Regions from separate parts of the Homo sapiens genome. Here regions 1, 2, 3, 5 and 6 are each reported to be linked to region 4. Evidence: microRNA targets listed by miRTarBase, many of them from high-throughput screens and not tested one by one. Region 4 holds a microRNA gene; each other region holds the end of a gene's coding sequence.

Evidence for each region. The annotated mature microRNA hsa-miR-3915 reads UUGAGGAAAAGAUGGUCUUAUU and lies in region 4 at 2,964-2,985, opposite strand. An mRNA with a match to its seed (bases 2 to 7 or 8) in the 3' UTR can be bound and repressed. Matches are read on the target gene's strand: a 7mer-m8 pairs with bases 2 to 8, a 7mer-A1 pairs with bases 2 to 7 and ends in A, and an 8mer does both.
Region 1: the mRNA of MIER3 is a reported target of hsa-miR-3915. Seed matches in the 3' UTR shown: 7mer-m8 at 3,960-3,966.
Region 2: miRTarBase lists ALDH4A1 as a target of hsa-miR-3915. Seed matches in the 3' UTR shown: 7mer-m8 at 3,939-3,945.
Region 3: miRTarBase lists CSKMT as a target of hsa-miR-3915. Seed matches in the 3' UTR shown: 7mer-A1 at 1,551-1,557.
Region 5: the mRNA of OXR1 is a reported target of hsa-miR-3915. Seed matches in the 3' UTR shown: 8mer at 1,197-1,204.
Region 6: the mRNA of ZNF3 is a reported target of hsa-miR-3915. Seed matches in the 3' UTR shown: 7mer-m8 at 797-803.

Annotation. Positions count from the first base shown.
Region 1 is chr5:56,918,907-56,923,981 of GRCh38, forward strand. MIER3 (MIER family member 3) reads right to left here. Exons shown (of 13, transcript NM_001297599.2): 11 at 5,009-5,075; 12 at 4,785-4,927; 13 at 697-4,679. The coding sequence ends at 4,222. It also overlaps a transcript of SETD9 not described here. Among named protein-coding and RNA genes, the nearest start is that of SETD9, 12 kb to the left of the region's middle.
Region 2 is chr1:18,868,396-18,873,470 of GRCh38, forward strand. ALDH4A1 (aldehyde dehydrogenase 4 family member A1) reads right to left here. Exons shown (of 15, transcript NM_003748.4): 15 at 3,035-4,562. The coding sequence ends at 4,450. Among named protein-coding and RNA genes, the nearest start is that of TAS1R2, 11 kb to the left of the region's middle.
Region 3 is chr11:62,666,089-62,671,163 of GRCh38, forward strand. It overlaps CSKMT (citrate synthase lysine methyltransferase), which reads left to right. Exons shown (of 3, transcript NM_001043229.2): 3 at 308-2,020. The coding sequence ends at 963. LBHD1 (LBH domain containing 1) reads right to left here. Exons shown (of 7, transcript NM_024099.5): 2 at 3,794-3,953; 3 at 3,553-3,715; 4 at 1,435-1,659. The coding sequence starts at 3,943. Among named protein-coding and RNA genes, the nearest start is that of UQCC3, 3.0 kb to the right of the region's middle. RefSeq lists enhancers at 242-351, 402-451, 472-571, 4,269-5,010, 5,011-5,075.
Region 4 is chrX:32,580,748-32,585,822 of GRCh38, forward strand. It overlaps MIR3915 (microRNA 3915), which reads right to left and starts at 3,005; the gene lies at 2,909-3,005. All of the region lies in intron 13 of DMD (dystrophin), which reads right to left. RefSeq lists an enhancer at 1,834-2,461.
Region 5 is chr8:106,750,572-106,755,646 of GRCh38, forward strand. It overlaps OXR1 (oxidation resistance 1), which reads left to right. Exons shown (of 17, transcript NM_001198533.2): 17 at 235-2,123. The coding sequence ends at 370. Among named protein-coding and RNA genes, the nearest start is that of ABRA, 17 kb to the right of the region's middle.
Region 6 is chr7:100,066,846-100,071,920 of GRCh38, reverse strand. It overlaps ZNF3 (zinc finger protein 3), which reads left to right. Exons shown (of 6, transcript NM_032924.5): 6 at 1-1,948. The coding sequence ends at 778. Among named protein-coding and RNA genes, the nearest start is that of ZNF3, 12 kb to the left of the region's middle.

The DNA of each region.
Region 1 (5,075 bases), not on the chromosome of region 4:
AAGATGTTTAGGAAAGATAGATATGACTACGGTCAAACTATGAATCGTATGGATAAGGAAGACTAGTTGACCATAAATGTAGTCTGTCAAATAATAATAATATTTGACCAAATTTCAGATCTGTCTGTCTTCATAAAAGACAGTTACCTAGAACAGCGTTTGAAACATAATAAATGTTTCCTGAATTAAACTAAAAGTATAATCCTTACTTTGGGACTTCTTTTTTTTTTTTTTTTTGAGATGGAGTCTCAGTCTGTTGTCCAGGCTGGAGTGCAATGGCAGGATCTCAGCTCACTGCAACCACCACCCCCAGGGTTCAAGCAATTTTCCTGCCTCAGCCTCCTGAGTAGCTGGGGTTACAGGCATGCGCCACCTCGCTCGGCTGATTTTTGTATTTTTAGTAGAGACGGGGTTTCACTATGTTGGTCAGGCTGGTCTTGAACTCCTGACCTCATGATCTGCCCGCCTCGGCCTCTCAAAGTGTTGGGATTACAGGGGGACTTTTATTATAGATGGAAATTATAGAGGATTTAAGGAAAATATTTAATCTACCAACTTCACTATCTATCATATATCTTATTTACTGCATCTAAAACCAATTTAACAGTGGTATAATATCTATCTATTTGCTGTAGCTTAAGATTCATTAAATAAAATATCTGTATTTTTGGCAAATATTCACACAAACCAAGAAAAAAAGATTCCCAGATTTTTATTTCTGGAACTGTACACCAGGTATTAAAGTACAACAAATACAAAATAATGCTCAAAAAAATCAGTGTTTATGTACAAATATTAAAATCAATGCAATAGCAACTTCCTCTTGAACATCTGATACTGAAACTTGTTCTGATTGTCACTAATTTATCTCATACTCACAGGGTACTTATTTCAAACTGGGACAATTGGAATCACTGGTCATCTAAGAGGAATATTAATATCTACCATATTTAACAATAAAACTAATAGTTTCCTCCATTTAGTGAAAAAATTAGGAACTTTTTAAAAAACATAGTAACGTCAATATTTTATAAATTATTTCAATTTCCATTTGTAGACAATGTGCTTTGAAACTCTGGGCAAACAATCTCCTTGGTGGTCAGGTTTATTTGTTAGTTTACATTCAAAGTTGAAATATTCACTAGAGACTTTGGTTAAATTAAATAGTATCACTATGCTCTATTAGATCTGATGTTCTCAAATATTTATGAGCCTCAACATTTTAAAAATTAAAAAGGAAATGATTGCACAATTCTTTGATCTAATTGTACAAATTTTAGTATTTTTTAAACAGTATTCTACATCCTTCAAGTAAATTCAGCAGCTGACCATGACAAGAGGAAAACTAAACATTTAAAAAGCTAGCATGAAAAAGATGAAGTACAACTAACAAATGTATTGCTATAATCACAGCACCAGTTACACTTCTAAATGAATCCACTGTCCTTTTCAAATTCCCTGTACATAAAAGATATATCAGCCAACACTGCAACTGCTCACCATGAATTTTTGGTTTGTTCATAAGAAAATAATGGGGCAAAGGAAAAAAAAACAAAAAGAATTTATCACAGTTTGTTATAAGAATTGTGCTTAACACTTGATAATAAAGGCATTATTGTTTCTTCACATGATTGCAAATCCGGTTGTTTTCTTGCTTCCAAATGCAATTCTTTTAATAAACAGTAACAAATTCTCTGTTAAGATGTTTAAACTGAGAGAAAAAAAAAACCCAGTAAATCCAGCTTTTAAAAGAAAATTCAATAAATAGCTATTTTACATGGATAAAGTCATAGTGGTACAATTTATGAATGTCACATCAAGCATGCACAAAAATGGTATTATACATGGCAGAAGTAGTCAGAAAATATTGAATTAGATCTAAAAAGATATGAAGAATTTACACTTATATACAAAAATCTTGCAAATTATTGCCTCATTTTAACAAGGAATTAAAAGTAAACATTACCAGCTAGTTAGCACTCTCTAAGAGGCTAAAATCAGATTGACATTTAAAAATCTATTAAACTAGCTGGAATTTATTTTTCTCTCATACCATTTTCTGGATTTTGGTCAAAAATCTTTATTTAAATAACTAAAGTGTCCATTCAACTTGCTGATAATCAAAACTTTAGATAAGAAACACTGTTTCCATCTTATATCAAGACCCCAGCAATGCATAGATAAACTGAATATATTACTGCATCAGCTACTGAGAATGGGCATGTTCATTTAAGTGCAACTGGTATTAGCATTCAGTCATCTTTGTGTAAATTATTTATACAGACCAGCCACTGTAAACCCAGAGTGAAAATTAAGGTTATAACAATGGAAGATTATGGCCAGTATCTTACTAAATTATAGAAAGTGTACTGATTTTTAATAAAAGAAATAAGGTTCAAAGTTTAGCACAACAACACAGCAATAAGAAGCTGACAACTTGGATAAAAATACAAGAAAGTAACACAGAGCCCAGGCTACCCATTATTTACTGTGTGCATACAGGAATGCTATACTTCAGATGTATAAATTAGAGACTGATTTTAAGTTATTAATTTAACTACTTTTTGTCCACTGTGCTAAACTAAATTTTATACTAATGTGCTACTGCGTAAACACTTCAAAGCAATCTTCATTAAAATGCTGCAAAGAAAAACAAGAATACACATCATCCAAAACTAAGGATGTCATTGCAGTTCACAGTTTGTATAATAAATACCCTCCCTTTCAATCACTACTAAGATCACTACATCCTATCTACTCATCAGCACAACCTTGAAGCAACTTATACTTACAAATATTAGCAATGCAGCCAAACATTTGTTTTTTGCAAAGCAACTAGTAAAAATCAAGAATTTTAATTAAGACGGTGCAAACAACATAATTCTCTATTTTAACAGTACTACAAAAGCAAAGATTACATCCTAATACTGTATTACATATTGTTTGATTCACCTTATAACTTAAAAATGCATGTTTATAGCACAAAAATGGCCAAAGTTTAGGACAATGGCTTCTCATTCACAATATTTGGAATAAAAATAAAACTGAGTTTGAGATACATCTGAACATCTATCAATTTTTAAAACTTAAAAGTGGTAATGTACCATTCTATTTCAGATAGGAACTCACATTATTCTTGCCAACTGTTCAAGCTTAACAAAAAAGCTTAAATATACTTCAAGGTTCTACTGCATTAGGTATAAAATCTAGAAGTCCCTCTAAATATTAACACTTTGAACTGCAGTGCTACAAACAACTTAAAAGATGTCCCAAAATGTAAACCATTGAGTGGCAACATCCTAGGCTTTGTAGACTGTGCCTCTGCAAGTCGACTGCCTCAGGATAAACTAAATTATCAATGACTGGTATGATTTTTAAGATTACAATCTTGACAATGGTGGACAAAACCCCATCTGAGTACCACATCTTCAAATGCCAAAACTGTAGCCAATAAATGAAGTTACACAGAAATCTCCTGGCAGTAACATGACCAATTCTGTGTAAGGTAGCCCTGGTCTAGAATTTTGAAACAGGATCCAAGCAAGCGTCTTCATTATTTGCACACAGTTCCTTGTGCTGGCTTCCATAAAGATGGACTTGCTGTTTTGTAAACTGAAGTGCTCTAGTTGAATAACATGAGAGAAGTTTCCATTTTTAAAAAATCCTTGCATGTTTGTGCAGTTTAAAGAAACCTACCCCTGCTTTTATTAAGAAAATAAAACCAAAAAAATGCTACATTGAGCAGGGATCGGGATCGGTACCTGTAAACATTGTTATTCCACTGCATCCATTACGGCAAAAGGAATTTACACAAAAACAGGCCACACCATTCAGTTCAGAACATCTGTGCTGGTTTTGAGCTGGTGGCCTCTGTCTACAGGTTTTAAAATTGGGAGTGAGGGCAGTGGGGAACACAAAAGAATAGAAAAAGAAGGGAGTGGGGAAGAGGTATTGGGAGATGAGGAAGAGAGAAGCAGAGCTTAAAGCTGCACCACAGAGTTCAATCTTAGTTCCCAACTCTGCTGATCATAGTTCATTTCCACATTTATGGATTGAAAAATGAAAATACTCTTGATAAATCAAGATATAGTTCTATACATACTGACATCACTGATGTCATAGTGAGAAAGGTTCAAACTTCCAGTGAAAGACTATGCAAACCTGATAGCTCCCCTCAAGTTTACTGGTGCTGCACACGCAGTTCCGGGATCCTCACTCAGGTCACTCAGAGTGTAGGGCCGCGTGCTGATGCAGAGCATGGGCACTGATGAAACCATTGGTCTCGTTGGCAGAGAGACTGCCAAAGTCAGCCACAGAAACAGCCATTTTGGCACTGGTGATGTGATGTGTGTGATTTTCAAAGTCCACACCCAGGTTATTTACAGAAACTTCATTCATAAAGGATTCAGGGACGGCAATGCCCATTTTCAATCTTTTTGCTGGTCTCTCTGACTCTTCACTGCACATGTTCATAGGGTTTAGCTCCGAGTGATAAAATCCAGTCTCAAATAAATTAAAACAATCACTTTCCCCATTGCTGGGCAGGGTGAGTAACTCTTCTGTTACAACAGGCACATGATTAACTTGTCCACGGGGTGTGTTGCCCAGTGGAGGAAAGCTATCATCCAAACAATTCACATCTGTGGGGTCGCAGACGGTTGCTACACTGTTGGTCAAAGCTAAAAAGGAATGGAAAATTGTTTAAGTAAGTGGTCCTATGACATCAAACAGAGGACACAATTTTGCAACAAACTGTACTAAATGCAGAAAGGTCTTCATTTTACCTGTCAAGTCACTGGCAGTGAAGGAGTTGAGAATGTTTAGCTGTTGATCAGGAATAGGCTCAGGCCGGTTAGAAGTTAAGGCTGAAGCATTTACCGTCCCACCCAAAGCTTCTGTTTCATCTACTAAACGATCCATATAGTCCCTGAAAAACACACCCCAGTAATTTTATGACTATATATTACAGTTAAAAGTAAGTCTTTGAAGGCAAGGCCACAGTACTTACGTAACTCCAGGGTGATGGTTATATCTTTTTTTCCCAAATCTTGTCTGTTGAGCAAAGTAATCATAAC
Region 2 (5,075 bases), not on the chromosome of region 4:
ACTAAGCAGGTCTCTCTTCACCTCTTTAAGCCTCAGTCCTCATCTGTGAAATGGTGCTAAAATACTATCTCACAGGCCGGTGTGGTCCAAGAGAATTTGTAGGAACGATTGGCCTATTGATAGGTGCTCATTTAAATCTGGCTTCTCCTCTTTCCTGGGGAACACACATATCTAGGATGAAGAAGTGTTGAGGTTGAAAATTAAAAGTTCACATTGATTGGGCACCTCACCCTGGCAGGCCATGGGATGCAGCGTTTTGTTTTTAAATATTTCATTTGGTCCTCAGCTCCTGGAGGAGTCTGAAGCTGGGAGGTCAAGGCACAGGAACAAGACGCTAAGGTTGGGATCTGAGCCCAGCGCCTGTCCAGCTCCAGGGCACTGTGCAGTGGTGGTTATGGCCAGGGGCTTGGGAGTCAGAGGTGTGGGACTAAAACCCAGTTTGTTCATTTCCTACTGGCATGTTAGTTACTTAACCCATTGGTGTCAGTTTCCTCCTTTGTAAAATGGGAGTAACAGCACCTACTTTATGAGACTTCCATGAGGATCCGAGGCCATGATGCCCGAAGCATTTAGCCCAATGCCTGGCACACAGCCTGCATTCAAACAATGGTGGCTCTTGTTATTTACTAATCTGGCCCCTAAACAGAACACCCAGGAAGTAAGACGATGAATGGGTCGGGGACGAACTAGTGAAAATGAAGACTCTCTGGAGAGGGTGGGTCTGCCTCCTGCCACTTCCCCTGACTCCCCCCGCCAGGAGCTCTGGGTCAGCCTGGTGGCCTGCAGCCAGCACAGGTGGCCCCTCATTTCCTTAGAGGGCATGCTCCACTGGCGGCCCGTGGGACAGTGGTGGCAGGGACATCCGGCCTCAGTCAAATGGTTCACGCTCCAAGCCCTGGCCCTGGCCACAGCAGGGAAATGAAGGGGCTCCTTGGGCCACCGCAGACACAGGGACTTATTGTGGTGACCATGCAAAGAGGCCTCAGGTCCCCGAGCAGGCACTGGGCCCTCAAGAGCCACCAGCCCCAAGTCTAGGGGACGAGGTAGAGGAGAGAGAACAGGGTAAGCAACAGCTTTGAGTCACCCCTAGTCCAAAAGGAGGCAAAGGTGACAGGTTGAGGAAGGTTGGATAAAATAATATTAGGAGAGGAGGAGCTTGGAAGTCAGGAGCCCAATGGAGCAGGTGGCGAAGAGCGTGGGCCGTGGGCAGCTGCAGACCCGGGTGCAAGCCCGAGCCTTCCTCCTAACCAGCTGCGTGAGCTTGAGCTAGTTATCCCACCTCTGACCTCTGTGGGTCCTGCCACAGTTACCTGGTAAGGTCACTGCCAAGGCTCTAAGTGACCAGGTAGGTAAAGCATTTAGTAATTAGCCAACTCTGTCTCAGTGTGATCTTAAGCAAGTCACACCAATGGTTCAAACACATCCACAGCCTGCTGGTCCCACGACTATAAATGCAGTTGCCACCCTTCCCTTCTGTGCTCCAGCCTGGGGCACTCTGGGTATTGCCTATTGTCCCTGGAGGTGTCAGTGTGGTTTACAAAACAGCCCCTTTTACATCATGGGCAGGTGGGAACAGGCCAGGTCACATGTTTCCACCCCTCCACAAGTCACCTGGCCTGCATGGGCTAGGGCCCACAGACCTGGGCTCAAGCTAACTGGCTGCAGTGGCTCCTCTCAGTCATCGTTTGGCCAGCTGAGCGTGTCTTTCCAAGACAGCAGTCATATGTGCCTTCTTGTGGCTGTACCAGGAACGAATCCTTCCCCAACAGACCAGGGTTTACGTCTCAGCAATACCATACCCCCAGGAAGGCCCCTGACCTCTGTACCTAAATTTCCTTCTCTCCAAAATGGGAGGGTGGCAGAATTCCTTCCAAAGGCTGTTGTAAGGAAACATACTGGGCCTTCAGCACACATATTCATCAGGATCCTCCAGAGACACAGAACAGGAGCAAGAGAGAGGTTTTAAGAATTTGCTCATGTGATTATGGAGGCTTACTAAGTCCAAAATCTGCATGGCAGCCCAGCAGGCTGGAGGCCCAAGGAAGAGCTGCAGCGATTCAGTGCAAGGGGAATCTGCTGGCAGAATTCCTTCCCGCGTGGAGAGCTCATTCTTCACTTTATGAAGACCTTCAGCTGATTAGACCACGCCCACCCACAGGATGAACGGTCACCTGCCTTGCTTTTTACTTTTAAAACTCCACTGATTTAAATGTTAATCTCATCCAAATACACCTTCACAGAAACACCCAGAATGTTTGACCAAATACCTGGGCACCATGCCCAGCCAAAGTGACACATAAAATTAACCATCACCACACAGGATAGTGGTTCTTACAACGAAAATGGGTAACGGGTATTTTTTTTTTTTTTTTTTGAGGCAGAGTCTCACTTTGTCACCCAGGCTGGAGTACAGTGGCGTGATCTCAGCTCACTGCAACCTCTGCTTTCCAGGTTCAAGAGATTCTCCTGTCTCAGCCTCCCCAAGTAGCTGGGATTACAGGTGCATGCTGCCATGCCTGGTTAATTTTTTTATTTTTAGTAGAGATGGGGTTTCACCATGTTGGCCAGCCAGGTCTCAAACTCCAGGCTTCAAGTGATCCGCCTATCTCGGCCTCCCAAAGTGCTGGGGTTACGGGCGTGAGCCACCGCACCCGGCCTTATGGGTAATATTTTTGAATCATCATGTGTCTGGCACTATTCTAAGCATGTGGAAGTGTTAACTCATTCAATTCTCATGATGACCCATGGCGGGGAGAGGGGGCGGTTACCCCATCTTATGGATGAAGAGATGGAAGGTCAGAGAGGTTGCATAACTTTGTGGCAATCATCTGGCTGGCGGGGGGGCAGTGAGCCAGGATGTGAACCCAGCCCCACCGCCTCCAACAGACAATTTCAAACATCAGCACCTACTGTTCCTTCTGTCACACTGAGAGCACTGTGCCCATGACCAGGTGACACATTGGCAATGACACCAGACTTAAAAGATGTTGGCTGCCCCCACCATCCCCTCCAGAAAGACCATCCACCACTGTGATTAAGTAACAGGCATTTTATTGGGTGGCATCTGAGCAAATCCCATTGCCACCTCACAGTGTAGAACCAGTAGAACTAAGAATACTCCAGCCTGTGCCCCCACCCAGCCACCTGCCCCGGCCCCTCATGGGAAATGACACATATCCTGGAAGGACACAGAACCCACACCCAGCCCAGCTGGCACCAGCACCCACCCCCATCCATGGGCCAGTGGCACTTGGGGAATGGCCACACCAGCTCCGGGTGGGGTCCCATGCAGGCATCCTGGAGGAAGACCCAACACTTTCACAGTCCCCTAAGAACCATCCTTGAAAGTCATGCTTTACAGATCTCTGACCACTCAGAATCCAAGCAGGAGGCATCTGTGGGAGGAATCGTGGTCACAGATTGGCTGCGTCAAAAAAAGAATGGGCCAGTGAGGGACTGGTCCACACAGAGCCACTCCCAGGCAGAGGAGGATTCTACAGGCAACGTCCTCGGCCCATGCTGACGAACCCAAGGCCAGGCCTCTGGGGGCTGGGAGAAGGGAGGGCCAATGTCTGCCTTGGCCTGTGTCACCATGGCACAGTGGTGGCTGAGCTCCTGCAGGGAAATCCCAGACCCTGAGACTGGCTCTAGGAGTGGAGGTCTCTACAGGTAGGGCCTGAGGATCAAAGGGAAGGCTGACATAGGACGAAGGCCCATCCAAGGTTTTCCAGAATCACGGCCTAAACCGGCAGGACCATCCCATCCCACGCCTTGGCAGGTGGCCTCCAGCGGCCCCCCAACCCCGCCATGTGGTGCAGACCGGGAATCACACAGGCCTCGGCCAAACACAGGCACCTGGAGTAAGGCATGCCAGCATCTAAGGTGTGTGGCTGGGGACAGGGGCCTACTGGCCCAGGTGGGTCTGGGCAAAGATACAGTGAGGAAGGTAGACAGCCCAGACCAGAGAGGGCAAGGCCAGCTGGTGCCCCCTGTGCCCCACAGGTCAGTCTGAGTTACACTTTACCCTGGACACCTGGAGGGGCAGGGATCAAGGCCAGGAGCCTCTGTGAGTGGTGAGGTTTGCCAAGGGGCCCAGAATGGCCTCCTTTTCCCCAAAGGATCCCAAGAGCTGCTCCATCTCCTTTCCCCAGGTCCCTGAGCCACTGGGCCCAGTGGAGGGCAGAGGGAGAACCTGCCAGGCACCAGGGTCATACCTCCCACATGGCCGATGGGATAAGGGGTAGTGGCCATGTTCCTCCCCAGCACGATCTCAAACCAGAGCCTGAGGCATGGGAGAGGCCAGAATACAGTGGTAAGAAGGGAGTCAAGCCCGGATTATAGAAAGGCAGCTGTGCATGAAGAAGGGGTGGAGGGGCTGGAGTGGGGTCTGTGCAGTGAGGTCGGCCACCTGGACGGACAGACAGCTGGACGGTGGAGCCCGAGAGGGGCTCACTGCATGTACGCGTAGCTCCAGTCCCCCAGGGGCTTATGTGTCTCCTTGATGACCTGCGGCGACGTCCAGCGCAGGATGTAGTGTGGGCCCCCTGGCTTGTCATTGGTTCCTGCGGAAAAGACACTTCTGTTTTTCTCTGAAAAGATGCAACAGCCTGGGCAGAAGGGGAAGGGAGGAGATGATGGAATCAACGGACCAGCAGTGTAGCGGCCAGCAGCGAGCCTGCTGCCAAGCTTGGGGCATGCAGAAGAGCCAGAGGGATGGACAGGAGACCCTGCCTCCAGTCTCCAGTCTGTGGGGAGCCTCCATTGTTCTCTCCAGTCGCACCCAGCCTTGCATCCTTGCTGGGATGCGAGGATGTCTAAGAGGCAGGGTGTGGCGTGGAGAGAACACTAGACTGAGAGGCAGGGACTTGGCATGGTCCTGGGGTGCCATAAGAGGTACATATCTAGCCTTCACCCCTGGTTCCTAGCCAGAATTCCTAAAGCTCTTGGAATTTCCAGAGTGATGGGGGTGAAAGGAGTGTCTTCCGTTATTCATAACAAGCCCCTTCTAATCACACATGAGTTTATGCTAATGAGGGCTCTTGCAGGATGGCACTGATTGGCAAAGGAACCAACCC
Region 3 (5,075 bases), not on the chromosome of region 4:
TGTAATGCTAACACTTTGCCAGGCCGAGGCGGGCAGATCGCTTGGCCCAGGAGTTCGAGACCAACCTAGGGCAACATAGCGAGACCCTGTCTACAAAAAAAATTAACCGGGCACGATGGCGCCTATAGTCCTAGCTACTCAGGAGGCTGAGGTGGAGGCTTCAGTGAGCCATCATTGTGCTACTGTACTCAACCCTGGGTCACAGAGTGAGACCCTGTCTCAAAAAAAAAAAAGACGCCAGTGTGTATATACGACGTTTTTGCAGTGGCGACATAGACCAAGTGACACCCTCCAACCGTGCCCACAGGCTCACTGGCTGATAGTTGCCTGGCGGACCGCTGTCTCTGGGATCGGCTGCATGCCCAGCCTCGTTTGGGCACTGTCCCCACCTTCGACTGGTTCTTTGGATACGACGAAGTCCAGGGGCTCCTACTGCCATTGCTGCAGGAGGCACAGGCTGCCAGTCCTCTGCGAGTGCTGGATGTGGGCTGTGGGACTTCCAGCCTATGTACAGGCCTCTACACCAAATCTCCACACCCAGTGGATGTGCTGGGGGTGGACTTTTCTCCTGTGGCTGTGGCCCACATGAATAGCCTCCTGGAGGGTGGCCCAGGCCAAACACCTCTATGCCCTGGACACCCTGCCTCAAGCCTCCACTTCATGCACGCCGATGCTCAGAACCTGGGGGCTGTGGCTTCTTCAGGCTCTTTCCAACTACTGCTGGACAAAGGCACATGGGATGCTGTTGCCCGGGGAGGTCTGCCTAGGGCTTACCAGCTTCTATCAGAATGCTTGAGGGTTCTAAACCCTCAGGGGACCCTGATTCAGTTCTCAGATGAGGACCCTGATGTGCGACTGCCCTGCCTGGAACAAGGGTCCTATGGCTGGACTGTGACTGTGCAGGAGCTAGGCCCGTTCAGGGGCATCACCTACTTTGCTTACTTGATTCAAGGCTCTCATTAAAGACATTTTAGTAGTCCTGACCCTAGTATTTCTGTGGGCAAGGAGAGGGCTGAAGAACTGTCTTTGCAAGCTATCTGGCTGCAAAGTGAGAATTTGAGTCCTGGCTTCCACATTTACTAGCTGGGTGCCATATTGCTGAATGTTTCTGTTCCCCAGTTTACTCATCTGCAGAGTGAGAATAACTTGGAGTTACGGAGATTACATACAATGATGTGCGCAATATTTAGCACAAAATGAATGCTGAAAAGAGAAGGTACAATTGGGTCATTCCCCAGTTTCAACTAACTGGAGCTCCTAAAAGCAGCAGACAGGAACTGAATCAAAACCCCTGCGCTGACTGACTTGTATAATCTAGTGGCCTAACCTGTAAGCCTCATTTTTGTCACCTGTAAAAGGAGATTGTAAGAGGATGGGTATAAGGAGCTTCATAAACCTGGATGAGATATTTGAGGGGGAGGGAACAATACTTACCCTCAAAGCTATTAGGAGGCAGGAGATGGGAATATTCCACAAAGCCACTTCTACAAACACGGGAGCCTGTTGAGTCCCAGAAGGGACAGTGGTTGGTGGCTTCCAGACATGCTGTGTCCTCAAGAATCCAACAAGCATCTTCTTCATCCTGGTCCTGCCCCCAGCTGAGTCCAGCGTTAAATGTTCTTAAAGGACTTCTAGGGTCCTGTGGGCTCCAAGCCCAGCCTGGGATGGAGGAAGAGAGGGGACAAAAATATTACTGATATATTATCAAATTACAAAACTAGGCCAGGCATGCTGGCTCATACCTATAATCACAGCACTTTGGGAGGCCAAGGTGGGCAGATTGCTTGAGCCCTGGCAATAAAGTGACACCCCTAACTCTACAAAAACAAATGAGCCCGGGATAGTGGCACAGGCATGTAGTTCCAACTACTCAGGAGGCTGAGCTGGGAGGACTGCTTGAACCCTGGGAGGTCAAAGCTGCAATGGGCCATGATAAGCTGCTGCACTTGAGCTAAAAATTAATTTCTGTGGTATTTTTTGCTTATAAAAAAATAGAGCAATTATATCACTAAGAGCCTAACCTCGCAGCCTCAATTTTCTCATTTATAAAGGGGAAGTACCTTCATTGGGTTGTTCTGAAAATCATGAAGTAAAAGTGTTTAGCATAGTACCTGGTACATAGTAAATGCTCAAAAGAATGTAGCTTCTTGGGAGGCTGAGGCGGGCAGATTGCCTGAGCTCAGGAGTTTGAGACCAGCCTGGGCAATATGGTGAAACCCCATCTCTACTAAAATACAAAAAAAATTAGTCGGGCGTGGTGGCCTGAACCTGTAGCCCCAGCTACTCAGGAGGCTGAGGCAGGAGACTTGCTTGGACCTGGGAGGCAGAGGTTGCAGTAAGCCGAGATCCTGCCACTGCACTCCGCCTGGGCAACAGAGGGTGACTCTGTCTCAAAAAAAAAAAAAAAAAAAAAAGTAGCTTCTGTAACAGTACACAGACGGGGCCGGGCGCGGTGGCTCACGCCTGTAATCCCAGCACTTTGAGAGGCCCAGGCAGGCGGATCACAAGGTAAGGAGATCCTGGCGAACAAAGTGAAACCCTGTCTCTACTAAAAATACAAAAAAATTAGCTGGGCGTGGTGGCGGGTGCCTGTAGTCCCAGCTACTCGGGAGGCTGAGGCAGGAGAATGGCACGAACCCAGGAGGCAGGGCTTGCAGTGAGCAGAGGTCATTGCCACTGCACTCCAGCCTGGGGGACAGAGCAAGACTCTGTCTCAAAAAAAAAAACCAAAACCAAAACAAACAAACAAAAAAACAGTACACAGAGATGAAAAAAGTCTAGAAGAGAAGGTATCGAATATGTAAACTATTTTTAGGTAGTTGGTCTTGGGGTAATTTTTTTTGTTTTTTGTTTTTTTTGAGGCAGAATCTGGCTCTTGCCCAGGCTGGAGTGCAGTGGTGGGATCTCAGCTTACTGCAAACTCCACATCCCGGGTTCACGCCATTCTCCTGCCTCCCGAGTAGCTGGGACTACAGGCGCCCGCCACCACGCCCGGCTAATTTTTTGTATTTTTAGTAGAGACGGGGTTTCACCATGTTAGCCAGGATGGTCTCGATCTCCTGACCTTGTGATCTGCCCGCCTCAGCCTCCCAAAGTGCTGGGATTACAGGCGTGAGCCACCGCGGCCAGCCTTAATCTGTACTTTCAAAATGTTTACATTGCTGCAGGAAAAGATAAAATTACCCCAAGACTGGCCGGCTTGGGAGGCTGAGGCAGGAGAATGGCGTGAACCCAGGAGGCGGAGCTTGCAGTGAGCTGAGATCGCGCCACTGCACTCCAGTCTGGGTGACAGAGCGAGACTCAGTCTCAAAAAAAAAAAAAAGAAGAAAAAGAAAGTACAGATTAAAGGATGGCACCCATTCTGATACCAAAACTGCTCTCTACAATTCATCAACTTTGCCAGCTGCCTTTTCTCTCCCACATCTTCACATTTATTGAGCACCTGCTGTGTGCCTGGCACTGCTGAATGCAGGGGCCGTAACTGACTTCCATCTTGGCTCTGCCCAGAACATTCAGCTCACAGTGGCCCCCTGAATGAGCCACCTCCCTCACCTGGCTCTTCACTTTGGTCTTGGAAGAAGGCCTCAGCATCCTCTTCCTCACCATCAGTGAGCAGCAGCAGCTCCTCATGGGGCAAATGGAGATCCCCACTCTCTTCATTCACCTCACTGGATTCCACCACAATAGACGGCAGATGGGACTTTTGAGAGAAATCCTGAATAGGGACAGCAGGGAGGTTGGGCCAAACTGGAGGGTAAGCCAGCTGCCAGACACAGGCTGAGGAAGTACTAACCTGAATGTGCTGGTGACCTTCAACCTTGCCAATTTTTCCTCTGTCCCAGAGAGGGTTGGGCAGCCTGGGACTTTCTGGATGCTGGGAGGAGCCTGGGCTATTTCTAGTCCAAAGCCCATCCTCCTTGCTTCTCCCTGGCACAAGGGCCATGGTGGTGATTCTTAGAGTGCAAGATGATTGAACTCAGAGGAGAGTACTGCTGCCCAGTGCACCCCACAAACTGTTCCTTTAATCTTCTTTGGAGCCTGGCCCCTTAAGCACCGACTGTGCTAAGCGATTATACGCTTTCAGGGGAGGGGAAAATGCCCAAGAGGTGAGATAGGATCTTTATTTCTACTTACTCCCTGGAGACACTGGGATGGCAACAAGGGTAGGAGACAAGGGCACCTGGATTAAAGCCCTGTGGGCCAAGAGTTGTGATAACCAACTTGGAATTTCCTGACTCCTATGCTTACTGATTTTTCCCAACCTGGTATGTTTGTATGTTATTTAATGAATATTTATATGGTGTTTACTCTTTGGCAGGAGCTGTTTTAATTGCTTTACATATAACTAATTTAATTATCCTAAAACTGTGAGACAAGTACTGTTGTTATAAGCTTCATTTTCTGATGCAGAAACCGGGGCACAAGAACTTGCCTATAATCAGTCACACAGCTAAGAGGTGTTTTCTTCTGTAAAGCAGAATTCAGTATGTTACACGAATCCAGCCTTTTAGTGGTTGAAAACAAAGCAAAACAGCCGGGCGCGGTGGCTCACACCTGTAATCCCAGCACTTTGGGAGGCCGAGGTGGGCGGATTGGGCGGATCACGAGGTCAGGAGTTCGAGACCAGCCTGACCTACATAGTGAAACTCTTTCTCTACTAAAAATACAAAAAATTAGCCGGCCGTGGTGGCGGGCGCCTGTAGTCCCAGCTACTCGGGAGGCTGAGGCAGGAGAATGGCGTGAACCCGGGAGGCAGAGCTTGCAGTGAGCCGAGATCACGCCACTGCACTCCAGCTGGGCAACAGAGTGAGACTCTGTCTCAAAAAGCAAAAAAGAAAACGAAGCAAAACAAAAAGCAATACCAGCCGGGCGTGGTGGTGCACGCCTGTAATCCCAGCTATCCGGGAGGTTGAGGCAGGAGGATCGCTTGGGCCCTGGAAGTCGAGGCTTCAGTGAGCCATGATCGCGCCACTGCACTCCAGCCCTGGGCGACAGAGCGAGACCTTGTCTCCAAAAACAAACAAAACCACGCCCACACACTAACAACAACAACAAAACCAAAAAAAAACCCAAAC
Region 4 (5,075 bases):
AAAGCTTATGTTTTATACAAGAATTGAAAATTTTTACCTTTACAATTTTAAACAACAGGGCCATATTCCAATAGGTATCCTTTTTTTCTTTTTCTTTGAGACAGAGTCTTTCTCTGTCCCCTAGGCTGGAGAGCAGTGGCGCGATCTCGGCTCACTGCAACCTCCACCACCCAAGTTCAAGGGATTCTTGTGCCTCAGTTTCCCAAGTAGCTGGGATTACAGGTGTGAGACACCACACCTGGCTCTTTTTTGTATTTTAGTAGAGATGGGGTTTCACCATGTTGGCTGGTCTCATCTCAAACTCCTGACCTCAAGTGATCTGCCCGCCTCGGCCTCGCAAAGTGCTGGGATTGCAGGCGTGAGCCACTGAGCACGGGCTCCAAAAGGTATCTTATTTGAAAGCAAGTGCATAGAAGATAAATATCCCTCTATGTCTCATGCCAACTCTTGACATCACAACTTTTCATCCACAAGAAATCACAAATTCTAACGTACATACCTAATAAAATGCATAAGATAATGTAGGTGTAACAGAATAGGTAGTAATGGGGACTGTGGCTAAATGAAGAGCCTGTGCTAGAGAAAACAGGGCAACTTGACTCCTGCTCTGGTTACTATGTAGAAAAACAGACTAAGGATCATCAGATCATTTGCTTTCTCTAGAGAGGTTAGAAATTCTTAGTTCATGTCACATTTTTTTCAATTTCAAACAATGGTAGCTAATAAACTACTATTAAATACCATAGGGACTAAATAGAACTTTATCTAAATACATCTGTAATTTTAGATGCAATAGACCAATTCCTAGAAAGACACAAATGATTCGAGCTGACTCCAAAACGGAAAATCTGGAAAAATGTAATGTTGAAATTCCAATTAAAAATGGACATTTTTATGTGTATTAAATACATAAAAATTTAATTTTAAAATTTCCCATTTGCAAATTCCAGTTATGAAGCCAGTTACCAAGCCTGCATAATCAGGTACTTAAACCTAGCAAGCATATTACAAGAAAGGAAAATAACAGGCCAATCACTTTCATGGACGTAAAGGAAAAACTATGAATCAAAGAAAATCTAGCAATACACAAAAAAGATTATACGTCTTATCCAGGTTTAGTTTATTACAGGAAGAAAGGCTTTTTTAGCATTAGAAAACTAAGTCATGTGATTTGACATATAGCAGAATAAAGAAGAAAAATACGACCATCTCAAATGATTCTGGAAAAATATATGATAAAATTTGGCATCCGGTAGTGATAAAACCTCTTAGAATATTAAGAACAGAAGGTATCTACAACAAACCTACAGGAAAGATCATACTTAATGATTATTTATTAAAGTTCTTCCCTCTGAGACTTAAAATGAGAAATAAATATCCACAATACTCCCATTGTACTAGAGTATTTATACAGTACAATATGTCAGGGAAAATTAATGACATGAAAAATAATTGGAAAGGGAGAAAGAAAACTGTCATTACTCAAAAACAACCTATATATGTACATCTGAATAATACTACAGATAATGTATTCAAATTATTAAGTAAATGTAGCATGGTACCTGGATACAAGACCAAGAAAAAAAATCAACTGTATTTCTTTATATCAGCACAAATAGAAAATGAAATTTCAAAAATATATTCATAACAGCAAAAATATAAAAACCCAAGAAATAAATCTCAGAGAAAGTTTAAGAGCCTTTACTTTAAAAACTATAAAACATTATTGAGAGAAAATAAAGACCTAACTAAATGAAAGGATTGAAAGACTTTACATAATAAAAATGTTGATTCTGTACAAGTTGATCCAGAGAATAGATGAAATCCAATTAAAACCACAGCAGATTCTTTTTGGGGGCAGGGTTCACAAGCTGTTCTTAAAATTCATATGGAGATCGAAATGGCCAAAAGCAGTCAAGATAATCTTTAAAAAGGAAGAAAATAAAATGGCTTTTACTGACCAACTGACCAAAACAAACTTAATGTGACTAAACTCTAGACAGGCTTTTATTTGACTATAGGCTCCTGACCTCTCTTTTCTTAGAGCGCTTACTTTAGGGAAACTTGCAACCAAAAACATATTCTCTGCCTCTTTGAGATGTAAATCTTCTACAATCCGGGAATATCTTTCTCAAGGACCTAGGAGCCATCTCTTTGAAATGTAATTGTTAATGATAGCACGCCTATCTCCCAGTCTCTGTGGGACAGTAGGAGCCTAACTTCATTAAGTGCCAATTAACAATCACAGATTGCCTAATCACCATCCTAACCCCCTAATATCTTCCAGTATTTTTCTACTAGCTCTCCTCAGTGCTTAAATTCTCTCCTGTCTTTCTTTCAGTAGAAATGATTTCCATCTCTCTCTCCTATGGCAATAGTCTTGATCCATAATTCAGTAGTCTTGAATAAAGTCTTTCTTGCCTGTTTGTCTGGTGCATTTTTTCTTTTACAATATTACCAGATACAGGCTGGGCCTGGTAGCTCACGCCTGCAATCCCAACACTTCGGCAGGCCGAGGCTGGCAGATCACCTGAGGTCAGGAGTTCAAGACCAACCTGACCAACATGGTGAAACCCTGTCTCTACTCAAAATACAAAAAAAATTAGCCAGGCATGATGGTGGGCACCTGCAAACCCAGCTATTCAGGAGGTTGAGGCAGGAGAATTGCTTGAACCAGGGAGGCGGATGTTGCATTGAGCTGAGATCTTGCCACTGCACTCCAGCCTGGGTAGAAACAGCGAAACTCCATCTCAAAAAAATATTACCATATATTAAAACTTGTCATAATGCTATAGTAATTAAAACAATGTGGAATTAGCATGAGGACAGGCAAGTAGAGAAATAAAACTGATTAGAGTCCATAAACTGATCCATGCACGTATAGGCATTTTATTTCTAATATTTTCGTCAAAGATGACACCACAGAATATTGAGGAAAGGATGGTCTTATTGAAAATCTTTGCAATAAGACCATCTTTTCCTCAATATTCTACAGTGCCAACTTGTTGTTTCAGTTGGATCTATATGGGAAAAAATGGACATTCATCCCTTCCTCATACCTGTAATAATAGGTGGATTGTAATACGAAAGGTAAAACAAACAGTTCCTATATAGCAACCCAGGACCATAGCTTCAGAATTTTAAAGTAGAGAGTTTTATTTTTAAACTGAGGACAAAAGTACACTAAACATAACAGAAAATATTGAAGTGAACTATGTTAAATTTAAACTTCTGTTTATGAAGAGATATATCATTACGGAGTGAAAAGGCAAGGTACCCATTCAAAAAGAAAAATGTAATATAAACAGCAAAGAATACCCAGAATATATATATTTTAAACTAAAATAAATCAGTAAGAGAAATATAGAAAATCCAGTAGAAAAACAGGCATTTCAGAGAAGAGTTCATTTAAATGGCCAATAACAACTGAAATAGTATTCCGCCTCACTGGTCATCAGTATATACAAATGAAAAATGAGAGATGACATTATAAAGTCACCAGAAAGGCTCAAATTAAAAAGTTTAACAAACAAGTATTCAAGAAGATATGAAGCAGTTTGTACTTTCATTTACTACTGGTGAGAATATGAATTTATACAACTTTGGAAAACCCTTTGTTAATATCTTGAAAGCTAAATATGCATATACCCAATGATTAAGAAATGCTATTCTTAGGTAAATACCTAATACAAAAGTTTACATATATACACAAAAATATACGTACAATTTATGTTGATAGATGAATTATTTGTAATGCTTCCGAACTGGAAACAACCCCAATTTTCTGAACAGAATATGTAAAATGTGGTATATTCATACAAAGTAATTCTATCCAGCGATGAAAATTAATAAAGTAATGCTATATGCAACATAGTGAATCTCACAAATATAGTATCCAGTGAAAAAAGCCAGTTAAAAAACTGCATATATAAAAGTTTCATTTACATCAAGTTAAAAATATAGCAAGACTAACCTGCAGCATTATAACTCAAGATACATGTTACCTTTGAGGAGATGGGAAGAGTTTATGATACCATAGGGCTTGATGGAGGTTTCCTGGTTGCTGGTAACATACTATCTTTTTCTGGATGTGGAATCATAGTATGTTACTTCTGTAATAAGTCTTTAAGCTATAATTATAACTTATGTCCTTTGCTTGATACTTCAATTTAAAAAGTACCATAAAGTTTGCATTTTTTTTTCAGAACCATCAACAGATAAACAGATAACAGGTTATATATACATAATGCAATGTTATTTGGCCATAAAAAGGAATGAAATATAGCTATTTGCAACAACATAAATGGAACTGGAGGTCATTATGTTAAATAAGCAGGCACAGAAAGACAAATACCACATGTTCTCATTCACATGTGGGAGCTAAAAAATTGGATCTCATAGAGCTAGAGATTAGAATGATAGATACTGGAGACTGGGAAGAGTGTGTGGATGGAATGAAGAGAGGTTGTTTAATGGGTACATACGCTTAGATAGAAGGAATAAGTTCTAATGTTCGATAGCAGAGTAGGAAGACTATATAATTATATACAACAGTGTAACAAAATATCACATGTACTCTATAAGTATGTACAAATATTATGTATCAATAAACTTAAAAATTTTTTGTAAATGTATTAACACTTGCATTCATAAAGAATATTATTGGCCGGGTGGCCGGGCGTGGTGGCTCACGCCTGTAATCCCAGCACTTTGGGAGGCCGAGGCTGGCGGATCACGAGGTCAGGAGATCAAGACCAACCTGGCTAACACAGTGAAACCCATCTCTACAGAAAATACAAAAAATTAGCCAGGCGTGGTGGCAGGCGCCTGCAGTCCCAGCTACTCGGGAGTCTGAGGTAGGAGAATGGCATGAACCCGGGAGGCAGAGCTTACAGTGAGCCGAGATCGCGCCACTGCACTCCAGCCTGGGTGACAGAGCAGGACTCCGTCTCAAAAAAAAAAAAAAAAAAAAAAAAAAAAAAAGAATATTATTGTTCCAGCATACTTGCTTATATTTCCCCTGTAATTTTGTATGGTGGGTATTATGATCACTGTTATCTTTGAGTTTCATTTGA
Region 5 (5,075 bases), not on the chromosome of region 4:
CGCTGGCCTCGGCCTCCCAAAGTGCTGGGATTACAGGCATGAGCCACCACACCCGGCCCATAAATAATTTTTTAATGGAATAGGAGTAAAACAAAATTGTGTCAGTGTGGAAAGGAGTAGGGAAGGATTTGAGAAAATTAATAACTTTAGGGTTGTTAGGTATTCAAAGTCTCATTTAAATTGTTTTATAACTTAAGGCATAAATATTAACAGATTATTATTTATGTATTGCAGAGGAGAATTTGCGCTTTGGCTTGATGGAGATCTCTACCATGGAAGAAGCCATTCTTGTAAAACGTTTGGGAATCGTACACTTTCTAAGAAGGAAGATTTCTTTATCCAAGATATTGAAATCTGGGCTTTTGAATAAATAAAATGCTCTCTGTCTTAGCAGGAGAATGGCCCAAACCTGACATGGACAAGCATTGTTTGGAAAGTTCAAGAAGCAATACAGTGTAACATGTCACTTGTGCTTTAAAATTAGTCTGTATCACCATTTATTACAGTTATAATTTTGGAGTTTATTTTTCAAATCATGTTCTTGTCCCAGAGTTCTTTAGGTTAACACTAGGGACTGCGTCCATGTACTAGTATAACAGCTTGGGTTTGTTAGAATTTGGGCAACATTTTGATTATAATGACAACTTCATTTTCACATGTTACTCAGTTCCCTAATAGGATGGTGCTCTTTTGTTGAACCTGTATTGATTTTTTTTTTTTTAACTATATTGATTCGTTTACTAGAACAGTCTAATTGGGGCATTGAGGAAATGAAGACTGGATACTTCTGTATCTGTGAAGTTGGCACAGGTAACATTTGGACATGTTCATCTTATTCTTAGGAAGGAAAAAATCACTTGCCAAAATAATACATACTTCATAGACCACTGAGTTCTAGTTTTTATTCACACTACAACATTCTCTTTAACGATGTTGCAGGTATTCTCAATTTCCTTTTAAGAAAAATGAAATGTGAGGAGAATTCTGGTTGTAATAGATGACAGTACATATGATCTGCAGGTTTGGGCATATGCTTTCATCATTAAATTATCTGATAAAGTTACAAGTCACAAAGGAGAATGAGAACTTAATGATTCTATTGGATTTAATATATTAGCAAGAAAACATACTATTTACATATGTGTAGCTTAGTAAGGCATTAACATAAGTACAAAAACTATGAAACAGATGCATATTTCCTCAACATACTGTGTCAGGTATACTGTTTTATAATTTGGTTGTTTTAGCCTTATTGCACACCAACTCCCAAAATATAGGTTACTCTTGTTCAAAAGGAAAAAAAAAATTGTGATTTTCTTTGAGTGGTATATGTTATTAATTACCATTAGCATTTGCTCTTATAAAGGGCAATGATTATAGTAGACAATATTGTAACTCAGTAGACTTGTTGAATATGCAAACTTACTGTCAAGTGACCTCAAAAAAAAAATGAAAAGATAGAATACACTAGTAGTTCTTATCCTCTTTTGTAGGAAACCAATAATAGCCATTGTGGCAATAATTCATCAGTTGATTTTAAAGCTTCATGTTATGCAAAAAAGAATCCTGCTGTTATACATGTGACAGTGACTTTGTGCTGAAATTTCAGCTATTCCAGATAAACATTGTATATCTTGTAAATTAATGTTTAAAGGTGTAGTTTTGTTCTTACAGAAAGTGTTGATTGCCAGGTTGCTTATAGCACTTTAAGTTATTCTAAAAATGAAATTATAAGCCAAATATTTGGCTTAAGTAGATTTAGTTGTATAGCACTTACATATTTAGTTCTTTTGAAAGTTTAGATAATTATTTAAAGAAAGCATAATGCTAATGGAAAAGAAAATCTGATGTTCTATTATAATATGCTATTGCTGAATATGAATAGAAATACAGGGCATCATTTCCTTGTCTCATTATAAGTTAGTAACAATATATAGATTAAATGTTTACAATATAGGGAATTGTAAATAAATATATCAGTTTTTTTCCCCTTCGGTCTTCCACAGCAGTATTATTGTCTTTGTGGAGTTGACTAATGATAATTTAAAAATCCTGTAATGGATTTCTACTAAAATAAGGTCATAGTGGCATATACCAAATAAAATCAAATACAGAAATACAAATGAGTTTGGATTTATTGAATACTCATTTTCTTAACAAGTCTTTGATTAAGCCTACTACTATCTTTTTTTTTTTAATGCTTCTAATAGCTTACATTGTGGTGGTGGTGGTCATGGTGTTAGGAGTAATAGTGATAGGAGAATGCATTCAATTAGAGGGAGCATTACATTTTTTAAAATGGAGATGGGAGAAGGCACTTGACACATGGGAAAGTGTAAGTTATTTGATATTTTTAAAGTACATTGTTTTCATTTTGGGTGGAGAATGCATAACAAGCTAAGCCCCTTATCATAAACAGTTATGTGTGTGCAATGCCAAGAAATTTTGATATTTTGTATCCCGTAGGTTCAGTTAACATTTGAGAGGAGGAATGACATGATCAGGTGTATACTTTAGGAAAATATCTGTGAAAAATAGATGAGTAGAAGGAACAACTAGAGACAAGGGGAAAACAAGCCTTTTATAAAGTCCAGAAAAAAAATGATTAGGCCCGAATAAGAACAGTGGTAATGGTAATAAGGAAGCATGGATTTGGAAAGGATTTATGAGTTAGGATGAACAGGAGTTGATTATTGATTGGATGTCAGAAAAAGTTAAAGATAGCTCCCAGGATTTTGATTTAAGAGTTTAGTTGTATTATTTATCAAGATGGGCAAGGTACATAGAGGAAAAACAAAAAAAAGCAGGTGGCAAAATGAAGTTAGTCGTGGACTTTATGAGAGTATGATGTGAGAAACAGGAGAATAAACTTTTTGGGAGTAGGACATTTTATATACTATTCTGAAAGATGAACTTTAAAAGTCAACAAAAAACAATAAAACTCTTTCACTTTTTATATGCAAACAAATATGAAATTTATGTATTACCATTTGTAATACCATTGAAAATATCAGATATATAACAAAGTGAAGACCAAAATAGGAAGGATATACCATATTCATTACTGGCAGACAATATTGATTAAAAGATATCAGTTCTCTTAAATTATATTGACAGTGAAAATCTCACCCAGGCTTATTTTTTGGAAATTAAACTGATTGTAGAGTTTATATGGAAATGTAAAATCAAAGAATAGCTAAGCCATCATGGAAGAATTGAGTGTCTGGTCTTCAGTATCAGATAATCATGATTTATTAGAAAGCTGAGTAAGAAAGACAATATATTGGTCAAAAGTTCAGAAAGAAACTGATTTCTGAAGAAGGTGATACTGCTGTCTGCTCAGTAAAGAAGACAGTCTGTTCAATAAAAGATGGTGGATTAGGCCGGGTGTGGTGGCTCATGCCTGTAATCCCAGCACTTTGGGAGGCCAGGACAGGTGGATCACGAGGTCAGGAGATCGAGACCATCCTGGGTAACACGGTGAAACCCCGTCTGTACTAAAAATACAAAAAACTAACCGGGTGTGGTGGCGAACGCCTGTAGTCCCAGCTACTCGAGAGGCTGAGGCAGGAGAATGGCATGAACCTGGGAGGTGGAGCTTGCAGTGAGCAGAGATCGTGCCACTGCACTCCAGCCTGGGCGACTGAGCAAGACTCCGTCTCAAAAAAAAAAAAAAAAAGATGGTAGATTAATTGGATATCTATATGGAACAAAAAGTCTTATCTCACACCACAAACAATTAGAGATTGAAAAATAATTGTGAAAAGCAAAACAATAAAGACATTAGTTTATATAGGAGAATATCTTCATGACCTTAGGGTAAGCATATATTTCTTTAATGGGACACAAAAAGCACTAAATATAAAGGAAAAAAATAAATTATGCTACATTAAAACTTTAAGCACTTCATCAAAAGACATCATTGAAAGTAAGAAGGTGTCCAATAAGAGTGAAAGCTGTTGTTTTCTCCAACTTTTATTTTTGGTTTGAGGGTACATGTGAAGGTTGGTTTCATAGGTAGACACGTGTCACAGGGGTTTGTTGTACATACTATTTCATCACCCAGGTATTAAGCTTAGTACCCAACAGTTACCTTTTCTGTTACTTGCCATCCTCCCACACCCCCACTCCAGTAGACCATTTTGTCTGTTGTTTCCCTCCATGTGTTCATAAGTTCTCATCATTTGGCTCCTACTTATAAGTGAGAACATGTAGTATTTGGTTTTCTGTTCCTGCATTAGTATGCTAAGGGTAATAGCCTCCAGCTTTATCCGTGTTCCTGCAAAAGACATGATCTCATTCTTTTTATGGCTGCTTAGTATTCCATGGTATATATGTACCACATCTTCTTTATCCAGTCTGTCATTGATGAACATTTAGGTTGATTCCATGTCTTCGCTGTTGTGGATAGCGCTGCAGTGAACGTTCATATGCATGTGTCCTTATGGTAGAAAGATTTATATTTCTCTGGGTATATACCCAGTAATGGGATTGCTATGTTGAGTAGTAGTTCTGCTTTTAGGTCTTTGAAGAATCACCCCGGCTTCCTTACACCATACACAAAGAGCAGCTCAAGATGGATTAAAGACTTAAATGTAAAACCCAAAACTGAAAGCTGTTTTAAAAGGGAATGTAGAGTGGAACAACCTTGGAAAATGTTTCTGGCAGTATCCACTAAAGCTAAGTATACACATGACTTTGACCAGCAAATTTAATTCAGTGATATGTACTGAACAGTAATATGTATATGTGTTTACCAAGAGATGTGCTGGAATGTTTACAGAACTATTTGCTTGCTCTCTTCACTTCCCATCCTCTCTCCTCCTGTACACATACCCACACACCCTACTTATTAATTTACTGCATCTCATTGTTTCACTTTACCTATAAAGATGTGTATGCATTTCCTAAGAACAGAGATGTCCTCCTAAATAGCCAAAGTACAATGATCAGATTCAGGGAATTTAACATTAATACAATAATATGGTCTAATATGTAATTCATTTCAAATTTCTCCAGTGACCCTAATAATATCCTTTCAAGCATTATTTTTCCTGGTTCATGATCCAAAGATC
Region 6 (5,075 bases), not on the chromosome of region 4:
CTCACATCAGAGACTCCCCGTGGGAGACAGACCCCATAAGTGTGATGAATGTAGCAAGAGCTTTAATCGAACTTCAGACCTTATTCAACATCAGAGAATCCACACTGGGGAAAAGCCCTATGAATGTAATGAGTGTGGGAAGGCCTTCAGCCAGAGCTCACACCTTATTCAGCATCAGAGAATCCACACTGGGGAAAAACCTTATGAATGTAGTGATTGTGGGAAAACCTTCAGCTGTAGCTCTGCCCTCATTCTGCATCGGAGGATCCACACGGGGGAGAAACCCTATGAATGTAATGAGTGTGGGAAGACCTTCAGCTGGAGCTCCACCCTCACCCACCATCAGAGAATCCACACTGGTGAGAAACCCTACGCCTGCAATGAATGTGGGAAGGCCTTCAGCAGGAGCTCAACCCTTATTCACCATCAGAGAATCCACACTGGAGAAAAACCCTATGAATGTAATGAATGTGGGAAAGCCTTCAGCCAGAGCTCACACCTCTATCAGCACCAGAGAATCCACACTGGAGAGAAGCCCTACGAATGTATGGAATGTGGAGGAAAGTTTACCTACAGTTCAGGCCTTATTCAGCATCAAAGAATCCACACCGGGGAGAACCCCTATGAATGTAGTGAGTGTGGGAAAGCCTTCAGGTACAGCTCGGCTCTTGTTCGCCATCAGAGAATTCACACTGGAGAGAAGCCTTTGAATGGGATCGGCATGAGCAAAAGCTCCCTCAGAGTTACGACCGAGTTAAATATCAGAGAGTCCACGTGAAAGAGCCACACACCCATTTTCCTCACTTTCCCTGAGTCTCAAGAGCTCTTGCCTTACCCTATAAATCTCAACAGCTTAGGATGTGTCCCTTTCAACTCAGACTTTTCATTTTAGAGAATGGGGCAGATGGGGCAAATCGTTGAATTTTCCCAGAAATCACACCAGCCTTAGAAAGCGTCAAGGCAAGTGGATGGCGTGCTGGGAATAGAAAGCAGCTCTGGGACCAGTTACCCCATTTAGGAAAGGAGTTTGCACTAAACTGTTTTTCTCACAGCAGAGGAACCTTTCCAAGGTGGGGATGGAAGCACAGTCGGGACAGAATTCGATGGATTCCTTTAGTTGGAGTCCGCGTAGTCAGCACAGACAGCAGTGGAAAGGACGCTCTGGGTCCTGTTATTTGCTAGGGAGGGTAAAGGGAGACTATTTCAAAGCTACTGTTCCTAGTCCAGCTTTAAGTTTCGGTAAGAAACATGCTGTTTTGTTTCATGATTTCGTTAATTATGGAAATTTGGCATTGAGGGATTATTTTATTGAGGGTAGAAGAGATTCCAGAATCATCATCTGTGATGATGGTGTCCTTTAGGGCTCTTGGAGCAGCCAGACCATGTTTCCAAGAGAAACCTGGTGATATTGCCAGCAGACCCCCTGCCATCCCCCCCAGTTGTCCTGGGGCTGAATGGGCAAATCTGTCCAAACAGCTAGTAACCGGCTGTGAGGGAGAGGGTCAGAAGCACTTAGCGTTGGCCTCTGATTGCTGTCCTCTCTTGTCCTCTTCCCACTCCAATGATGAAAATGATTTTCTCTAAATGCCTGGGTAAGGATGCTTTCAAGGAGCTCACTTGGCCTGCTTGCCCTGCCCTCTCACCTCTGACACCCAGCCCCAGGAGCCAGACCACTCCTGCCTCCACCTCTGACTCTTCAGCAGCTGAAGATTAATGCAGAGAAAGAGCAAAGCCCAAAAGGGAGAAAAAAAAAACAAAAAAACAAAAAAACGAAGCCCAGAGAAGGCAGGCTGTGCCTGAGCCTGGTAGCAGAGCTCGTTGCTGGGTGAGGATGGCACTCCCCGAGTTTTCCCAACCGACGGGATGACCTTCCATTGTGTTTTCCCAACCCTGCTCATCCTGTAGCATAAATGAAGTGCACTATTAAACAGAATAGTTTTTCAGAAGAGATTGAGTGTGGTTTTGTGCAATGTTTGGACCATATATTTCAGTTAAAACAAGACATGTTGGCTGGGTGCAGTGGCTCATGCCTGTAATCCCAGCACTCTGGGAGGCCAAGGCAGGCAGATCACCTGAGGTCTGGAGTTCTAGACCAGCCTGACCAACATGGAGAAACCCCGTCTCTACTAAAAACACAAAATTAGCCGGGCATGGTGGCACATGCCTATAATCCTAGCTACTCAGGAGGCTGAGCCAGGAGAACTACTTGAACCCGGGAGGCGCAGGTTGTGGTGAGCTGAGATCGCGCCATTGAACTCCAGCCTGGGCAAGAAAAGCGAAACTCCATCTCAAAAAAAAAAGACAAGACATGTTGGTAACTATAAATGGAATTTGAAAGTTGACTTAATTTTTTTTTTTTTTTTTTTTTTGAGACAGAGTCTAGCACTGTTGCTCAGGCAGGAATGCAGTGGCACCATCTTGGCTCACTGCTGCCTCTGCCTCCCGGGTTCAAGCACTTCCCGTGCCTCAGTCTCTAGAGTAGCTGGGACTACAGGTGTGCACCACCACGCCCCAGCTAATTTTTGTATTTTTAGTAGAGATGGGGTTTCACCATGTTGCCCAGGCTGGTCTTAAACTGAGCTCTAGCAATCTGCCGGCCTCAGCCTCAAAGTGCTGGGATTATAGGCGTGAGCCACCATGCCTGGCCCTAAAATTTCTTTATAGGCTAGGTACAGTGGCTCATGCTTATAATCCCAACACTTAGGGAGGCCAAGGCAGTAGAATCTCTTCAGACCAGCCTAGGCAACGTGGCAAGACCCTATCTCTACAACAAAATTAAAAAAAAAAAATTAGGGCTGAGCGCAGTGGCTCACAGTTGTAATCCTAGCACTTTGGGAGGCCGAGGTGGGCGGATCACAAGGTCAGGAGTTCGAGACCAGCCTGACCAACATGGTGAAATGCTCTCTCTCCTAAAAAAAAAAAAATTATATATATATATCAGCCAGGTGTGGTGGCACGTGCCTGTAATCCCAGCTACTCAGGAGACTGAGGGAGGAGAATCGCTTAAATGCAGGTGGCAGTGGTTGCGGTGAACCAAGATTGCTCCATTGTACTCCAGCCTGGGCAACAGAGTGAGACTCCATCTCAAAAAAAAAATTAGCTGGGTGTGGTGGTGCACACTTGTGGTCCCAGCTACTCGGGAGGCTGAGGTGAGAGGACTGCTTGAGCCTAGGAAGTTGAGCCTGCAGTGAGCCCCTGTGATTGCACCACCACACGATAACAGAGCAAGACAGTCTCAAAAATGAAATGAAATTACTTTATAGATTGCCATTTTTTTTTTTTGAGATGGAGTCTTGCTCTTGCCCAGGCTGGAGTGCAGTGGACCAATCTCGGCTCACTGCAACCTCAGCCTCACTAGTATCTGAGATTACAGGCGCCCACCACCACGCCCAGCTAACTTTTGTATTTTTAATAGACAACGGGATTTCACCATGTTGGCCAGGCTGGTCTTGAACTCCTGACCTCATGATCTGCCTGCCTCGGCCTCCGAAAGTGCTGGGATTACAAGCATGTGCCACTACGCCCAGCCTATGCAAATAAATTTTAAATCTGTGTTCTCATGGCTGTAATCCCAGCACTTTGGGAGGCCAAGGCGGGCGGATCACGAGGTGAGAGTTTGAGACTAGCCTGGCCAACACGGTAAAACTCTGTCTCTACTAAAAATAGAAAAATTAGGCTTGGTGGCACATGCCTGTAATCCCAGCTACTCGGGAGGCTGAGGCAGGAGAATCACTTGAACCCAGGAGGCAGAGGTTGCAGTGAGCTGAGATAATGCTGCTGCACTCCAGCCTGGGTGACAGAGCGAGACTGTCTCGAAGAAGAAGAAAAAAACCTGCCCATGTCCTGATGGCTCTCCCAAGCCTCAGTCGTGGGTCTCCAGTGGACTGCAGAGCAGTTACACCTGGACTTTCTACAGTTTCATAGTATGTTTCAAACCAGATCCCACTTTCCCATTTATTGCCCCCTCTTAAAATTTCTGTAAACCTGTCAGGATCAAAATTTTGTAAGTTTTCTTTGATTATACTCCTCATCCTCCTCCATCTAACCAGCATCAAGCCTGGGCAGGTTCAGTAAAGATGGAGTGGAATGATACTGTTTTCAGAGTTGAGATTGTAGAGGAGATGGGATTTGCAAGTGATGGTAGCAGTAGCTGATACATGGCATATACTCTGTGTCAGCGTTGCCTGGCTCTTTTCCGAGTGGTTTTCATGTATTAATCAGCTGGGTGCAGTGGCTCACGCCTGTAATCTCAGCACTCTGGGAGGGTAAGGCAGGAGAATCGCTTGAACTCAGGAGTTCAAGCCCAGCCTGGGCAACATAGTGAGACCCAGTCTCTACAAAAATAAAAATTAGCTGGGCGTGGTGGCACACATCTGTAGTCCCAGCTACTCAGGAAGCTGAGATGGGAGGACTGCTTGAGCCCAGGAGTTGGAAACTAGCCTAGGCAATATAATGAGACCCCTGTCTCTCTGAAAAGAAAAAAATCCAATACTTGGCGAGGAATGATGGCCTACAGTAAATGAGGTAGAGCTGCTAAAATGATGAGCAGAGAAAGGGTGTCAGCAGACTCAGCGTGTGTTAAAATGAATTTCTTACACGAGATCTGAGAACCAAACACCTATGTTATCTCGGAAGGCCCAAATAGCTTCCCGTTCACTCAGACAATAAAGGATGAAGTGAGGGGAGCACCGGGATTGTTCAGTGACAGCTGCCTCAGCAGGGTTAATAGTAGGAGATTCTGCCACAGAACAGAGTTCCCTGTTATTAATGGGATGACTGGTCAACAGAGGCCAGGCGGCAGCACTGAGCTATCACAGGCAAAGTGGACACAATTACCATGATGGGCAACCAGGCCAGAGTGGCAACTAGGGTGATTTTTTTTTGAGATGGAATCTTGACACTCTGTCACCCAGGCTAGAGTGCAATGGCATAATCTCGGCTCACTGCAACCTCTGCCTCCTAGGTTGAAGCAATTCTCCTGCCTTAGCCTCCTGAGTAGCTGGGACTACAGGCGCACGCCACCACACCTGGCTAATTTTTGCATTTTTAGTAGAGACAGGGTCTCACCATGTTGG